Linked DNA regions of Homo sapiens. The protein of the gene in region 1 interacts with the protein of each later gene in a biochemical or structural test. Each region holds a gene or a part of one and is shown on either strand. Other genes may lie near its edges.

What was found.
Region 2: of the proteins of PTPRG (region 1) and PDPK1, one has a biochemical effect on the other in vitro, tested with the Homo sapiens proteins (one large-scale study listed by IntAct).

The regions. Positions count from the first base shown.
Region 1 is NC_000003.12:61,564,571-61,568,070, reverse strand, and holds part of PTPRG (receptor-type tyrosine-protein phosphatase gamma isoform 1 precursor), read right to left. Parts: intron 1-3,500.
Region 2 is NC_000016.10:2,541,021-2,544,520, reverse strand, and holds part of PDPK1 (3-phosphoinositide-dependent protein kinase 1), read right to left. Parts: intron 1-3,500. UniProt on the Homo sapiens protein: Serine/threonine kinase which acts as a master kinase, phosphorylating and activating a subgroup of the AGC family of protein kinases.

The sequences.
Region 1 (3,500 bases):
AGTGCACAGAATGTTGCCCTAGTCCTGGATATAGTTTGTTTCCAAGTAAGATGGTTGCTCCCATTTCTCAGACTGGCAAATGAACTTTTTTTTTTTTTTTTTTTTGAGGCAGGGTCTCACTATGTCGCCCAGGCTGGAGAGCAGTGGCACCATCACAGCTCATTGCAGCCCCAAAGTCCTGTCCTCCACCTCTGGAGTAGCTGGAACTACAGGCGCATACCACCAAGTACAGCTAATTTTTGTATTTTTTGTAGAGATGAGGTCTCACCATGTTGCACATGGCTGGTCTTGAACTCCTGGGCTCAAGCAATCTGCCCACCTGGGTCTCCCAAAGTGCTGAGATGACAGGCATGAGCCACCATGCCCAGCCTACATTTGATCTTTTAATTTTTTTTTTTTTTTTTTGAGACAGGGTCTCACTGTGTCACTCAAGCTGGAGTGCAGTGGCATGATCACAGTACACTGCGGCCTCAACCTCGTGGGCTCAAGCAATCCTCCCATCTTGGCCTCCCAAGTAGTGGGGACAAAAGAGTGCACCCAGCTAATTTTTCTTTTATTATCTGTAGAGGCAGGGTCTCCCTATGTTGCCCTGGCTGGTCTCGAACTTCTGGGCTCAAGTGACCCTCCCGCCTCCCAAAGCACTGTGATTATAGGAGTGAGCCACAGTGCCCAGTTTTATCTTTTAATCATTTGCACAGGCAACCTCATTCTGGGACAAATTCAGTGACTATTGCCAAATCCCACAAGAAGCCCTCACAGAGCAGGCTCTTCTCAGCCCCTCCTGAGTCCCTCCTGAGCCACTCCCTCTACCTCGTCAGTGGCTGCTTAACCTAGATCAAGCTCAGGTGGAAAATTAAAGGTGGGGAGCAGTGTACTCCTTGGCTTCTATAATATTAATAAAACAGCCCTTTTATTCTCTAAACAGGATACAGCCGAAAACAGTTTCAGTGACCACCACCCAACATCTAACAGAGGTCAACTCTGAACCAAAGCAAACCAAGGGCTAATTTCTGGGCACCAAGTGCTTTAGAGGGAACTTCAGATGCCCTAAATTTTTCCCATAAGCTCCGGGTTATGGAATGTGACCACATGAAATGTAACCCAGGATGACAGTATTAACTACAATTGTTTAAATCTCTTAATTCAGAATGTACGCATATTGCAATCTTCAACCTGCCTAGAAATGGCATTTCATTGTCCCACATGCTGAATGGAAATCAAGATTTAAAAAGAACAAACAACGTGTCACTGTAAAAGCAAAGTGTTAAAGCAACAGCCCAGTAGCAATGTAATCCCAGCACTCTGGGAGGCCGAGGTGGGCAGAGCACCTGAGGTCAGGAGTTCAAGACCACCCTGGCCAACATGGCGGCACTCCGTCTCCACAAAATTACAAAAATTAGCTAGGCATAGTGGCACGTGCCTGTAGACTCAGCTACTCAGGAGGCTGAGGCAGGAGAATCGCTTGAACCTGGGAAGTAGAGGTTGCAATGAGCTAGGATCTCACTACTGCACTCCAGCCTGGGTGACAGAGTGAGACTCCATCTCAAAAAAAGAAAAGAAGTCTCCAGGAAAAGGCAGGGAGACAAGGGAGTAGGAGAGGCTCCTGAGTAACTACTCTAGGGCATTTTAAGTGATCTCACGTGAATGCCAAGGAAGTTACTTTCAATCAGCACACAGGTGTATAACTGATTCTACTCTGTTAACTTGGGAGCTGTTTAGAATAGAAAGGCAAATCTGAAAGGGCTGTTTGTTTTGCTGCATTAAATCATCAGCATTCGCTGGATCGCTTCATGTAAACAACAACATAATCTTTTATTCAGTGAAAACAGGTCCATAATTAATGGGAGATACTCAAAGCTTCACTATGGAATAGTCACTTTTCCCACATCAGCCAACCCTTCCTATGACCTTTCTTCTTTCAGCAACAACAGCAACTTCCCCTATTTCCAAAAGGCCCTGTTTATGCCTATCTTTATTAGTGTTTTAAGTCCATCAACCCTCAAATGTGAACACTGTTTAGAAGGAAACATCAAAGATTTTATTCCATAACTGTGTCAAAGGAACCCAGTTTAGAGACTGGGTAAAGATTCTTCATTTTCAAACATGATACATGAGGGAGAGGGAAAAAAAACCTGTACAATCTCACACCCTGTAAAGAGAAAGATTGCTGATTTCCAAATATTACTTTTGCCTTTTCCTAAGGCCATAACGGATGCCCATCAGAACTAAAGCCCGCACATGCAAATAAAATAAGAGACAGCTTAGAGGGAGATTCATGATTCACCCGACATTAATCATGGAGCCTCCAATTCTGACACATCCAAGGTACACAGCTGAGCTTATCCATCTGAACTGTTTCCAATGGCAGCATCCTAGATATAATGTAATTACAATACAAAACATATCAAAACCAGAGTTTCACTCTGAGGGCCGAAAGACAAAAATCAATTAAAAAAAAAATCTGCTGAGCTTGAGAATGTAAACTAGATAAAAGGTTAACACTCTGAAGTAACATATTTTATACTGTGTCAGAGGCAATTAAATTCCCAGTGATTGGAGATATGTATCAGAGTTTGAATGAACTATGTGTAGGATTTGCTTTAAAATAATAAGGTGTTGGGGAGGAAGAGATGAGAGAAGATTGAGTTGTGAGTGTTGAAGTTGGGTGGGGGATCCATTATATTTTGCTATTTTTGTAAACGTTTCTACAGTGCTTTATAAAGATGTATATAGCAATGTAATATGCCTAATATCATGTTTGGTAACACTCTTAGCTTTGCACTTGGAAAGCATCACTTGAAGCATTATTAACCCTGAATGGATCCCAAACCTGCCACACTGCTGTTCAAAGACTAAAATCCACTGTTTCCAATCCACTGGGAAAAAGCTCATGCCAGGGCTGTGTTTCCAAAACCCTGCCCAAACTACAGCTAACCCATATCCTGAACAGGAGCTGAGAACTCAAATGCAACTGAAGAGTTATGCTGAGTTATGATTCTGAGAGGAAACACAAAAATACTAAATAAAAAGGGATTTTGGCTAAGACCTCACAAGGACGACCCTACTCCAAAACAGAAGCATTTTTATCCCTCATGTCAAACAGATAAGCGCTTTCGAGGTCATAGCAGGCAAGAAGTAGGGGTCCCAAGGCTAACTCCAGCCCCCAGCGGGTTTCGAGAAAGCCAGGAGCAGCATCGCCAGGCCGAGGCCGCCGCCTCGCGCCAAGGCGCGTCTGCAGCCCCAGAGCCTGGGAACCCGGGCACGCGCGCCCCATCCCTGAGGCGTGGAGGTGGCCGAGGCCGACCAGTGTGGAGGTGGCAGGAGCCCCACCAGTGGCTCGGGGGCGCCCCCTGAGGTCCAGCGGCGTCGCGGCAACCTCGGAAAACGAAAAGCCAGCGTCTCCCAGAGCTCTGATATTTTAACTTTACCTTGCTCCAAAGCCTGCTGCTCCCTCTCGGGCTGCACTTTTCCAAACCAAACCGCCCTCTTCCCTGCGCCTC
Region 2 (3,500 bases), on another chromosome or scaffold:
GAAAAGGCTAGGGATATTCATTGTACTATGCTTTCAACTATTCTTCGGTTTTGAAATTTTTCAGAACAAAAATTAGTGGAGAAAGGTTCATCCTCAGTCCAGTAAGTTCCAGGAGACAGAGCCAGACCTACCTTATTCACCACTGTTTCTCCACTGCTAGCTCAATGTGTGGTCCTCATCCCACTGGCCCAGGAAACCACTGCTAATATTTCTGTGGGAACCTCCCTCCAAGCTTTTCCCTGGGCCTGAGGAAAGTTATACTGGGCATGCTGCTTTGCAACCAGGTCTCTTCAGGTAGAAACACTTTGTAACCACCTATCAGGAGAGTACATACAGTCTGCCATCCCCAACCATAGGTTGACTCCACATGCATGGATTCAACCAACAGTGGATAGAAAATATTAGAAAAACAAGAAATTGCATCTGTACTGAACATGCACAGACTTTTTTTTATTGTCATGATTCCCTAAAGAATATAGTAAAGCAGGCCGGGCACGGTGGCTCACGCCTGTAATCCCACCACTTTGGGGGGCCGAGGTGGGCGGATCACCTGAGGTCAGGAGCTCGAGACCAGCCTGGCCAACATGGCAAAACCCGGTCTCTACTAAAATTACAAAAAAAAAAAAAAAAAATTAGCCGGGTGCGGTGGCACGTGCCTGTAATCCCAGCTACTCAGGAGGCTGAAGTAGGAGAATTGCTTCAACCTGAAAGACGGAGGTTGCGGTGAGCCGAGATCGTGCCACTGCACTCCAGCCTGGGCGACAGAGCAAGATTCTGTCTCAAAAACAAAAAACAAATAACAAAAAACCCAGCAGACTGGTCAGAAAAGACTGTACAGCCACAGGGGTTTCCATGTAGGGAAATTTCTCTAGGCAAGGAGGAAAAGCCTGAAGAAGACAAGAACTGCTGAGAACAGGGCAGCAGGGAACATCCTGGACCCACCTGGGCCGCACAGGCTGGAAAGAGAGGCCGTGGCCGGGCATCCGAGCCTGGGCCCCTCACAGAGGAGGAACAAAGTGACAGGCCAGGAGAGGAGGGGAAGATGCAGGAGTGCTGGCATCTGGGGACCAGCCAGCAAGTCCTTGGAGCCCTCCCTCACCAGAAAAGGGGAAGCAGGAAGGACAGCGGCAATGGCCAGAGTGAGGAGAATGCAGCGTCCTGCAGCTCCATGGAGTGAGCGCCTCCTTCACGGAGCAGCCCTGGCCGCCCTGCAACTGAGGCCGCGGCACCGAGGGTCCCGCCAATGCAGCAAGGGGCGAGAGACACCACACCTAAGACTCAGGAGCAAGGTCCTGTCCCCGCTCCCAACCCCGGGGCTCCTGGAATCACCGAGGCAGAACTGAAAAGTGAGTGCGGGCCCCTTTCCCACATGTTCCACTGCAAAGGTCAACACACGCCAGGCGCATTTCAGTGAGGCTTCAAGTCTTCCCTGCAAATCTCATCAGCCTTTTCTGATGGCATTCAATGCACAGCGGTCACTTTCAGCTACAACCCCTTCCTACTGCAGTCGAATTAATTCCAAAAGGGAAAAAACAGGTTAAAGAATGGGACTTTAACGATGAATTTATTGCAAAAAATAAGCCCATAGCCAGAAGAATCCTGACTGGCATCCTGCTGAGACACACAGCCTCTCCTCAGCCCTCTCCAGCACGGGGAGAGGGCACTGTCACCAGCTCCGCAAACACGCAGGAGACGGGGACCTCCAGAACTAACGTCCTTGGTCTCCAGACCTACCTTCAAACCTCATCTTTAAATATTTCGAATCCCTGCGTGCTACAAGCTGACTTGAAACACAGATTGGGCCGGTCCCAGCACGGTGGCTGGTAGAGAGGGCATCTGATCTTGTCTGTGGAATGACGGAAGTCACTGGACTGTCCAGGAACTACATGCCCACCTTCATCAGATGGAAACCACACACTTGTTTATTCTGCAGGGGGCCGTGTGCTCAACAGTGAGCTGCTAATGTCAGGCTTGTCCATCTTTTTCATACACAGGCTCTACAGTACTGTCAGTTCCCAATTCTGTGGGTCCCTGTATAATCCAACTCTTTAAACAGAAACCAGGCTGGGTGCGGCGGCTCATGCCTGTAATCCCAGCACTTTGGGAGGCCGAGGCGGGAGGATCCCTTGAGACCAGAAGTTTGAGTAGCCTGGGCAACATAGTGAGACCTCATCTCAATAAATAAATTAAATAAATAAATAATGTAGGTGGTGCGCACCTGTAATCCCAGCTACTTGGGAGCCTGAGGCACGAGAATCACTTGAACCCATGAGGCGGAGGTTGCAGTGAGCCAAAATCATGCCACTGTACTCCAGCCTGCGTGACAGAACGAGACTGTCTCGAAAAAATAAATAAATAAACAAACAGAAACCAGAATCAGGTGCTCTTATAAGGGATGTGTAGCCCAGAAACTCAATCTTAACACATTCTAAATGACCTGGAATTTCTTGGAGCAAAAATTCCAGTTTAAATATCAGGAAAATTGTCTAGACTAAGAGAATGGAAACGGACTTTGTGCAACCAACATCAGGTACAGAAAAGAGACCCCAACAATCATCATGAACCCAAACAGGCCTTTCTCCTCACTAAGAGAAGAGAACACACACAACCCATGCCTTGTTACTCTTTGAGAAGATGTGCCCTGCCTGTGATCTAGCAGCTAGAGACGGAACATACAACCTGTTCTCAATATTCAAATAATTTTTTAAAGGACATGGTATCACACTGAGCAAGTGAATAATGCAATTCTGCTGTAGAAGAATGCACGGCTGAAAAGACCTGAGCAACTCATGTCCAAAACTTGCAGTTTCCACAGCAGCACTTCCTCCCAGCACACTGCCCTTTGAACCTGCTTTCTAAACAACTGTGCTGGGCAGCCCAGTGGCCACATGTCATCGCACAGCAGGTGTGGAGCAGCATAGAGCACCCTGGCCCTCGCACCTGCTTGGGGGACTGTTTCTGCACCCAGGGCTTCTCTGCAGCCACAACCTGCCCCACACAGAACTGCAGCACCACGTGGCATCCTGTCCATTTCCTCAGAAGGGGAAAGTGCCACGCCAGTGCCCACTCTCTTCCAAACACATCCTCTCAGAAGGGACTGGCCACGCTTGCCCCCTCATTTCTGCAGCGCTTCCCAGTTCATCACCTGCTTGCCAGACTCCGTCTCCCACCGGTGTCAATCAGCTGCCCTGGAGCATCTAAACCCTGGGTCAGGCGGCTCAGGGGATGAGTGCATAGACTGAAAAAGGAACACTCCCTGTTTCTCCCCAAAACTGTGCTGAAGGCAGTCTAGAGGGCCAAGACCTGTCAAGAAGAGCTGCCCAAGGCCTCTTTTCAGGCCCCACATCTCTGCAGGCTGCTGCTGGATCCTTCTCATAAGAACACATCTCAGAAAAGCAGAACAAACCACTTCCCTCTTACCACTGGGAGCTCACCTTGCCAGCTCTAGACTCAGCTTGGACTGGCTGTCAGGGCAACGTTGCGTACAGGAATACATCACA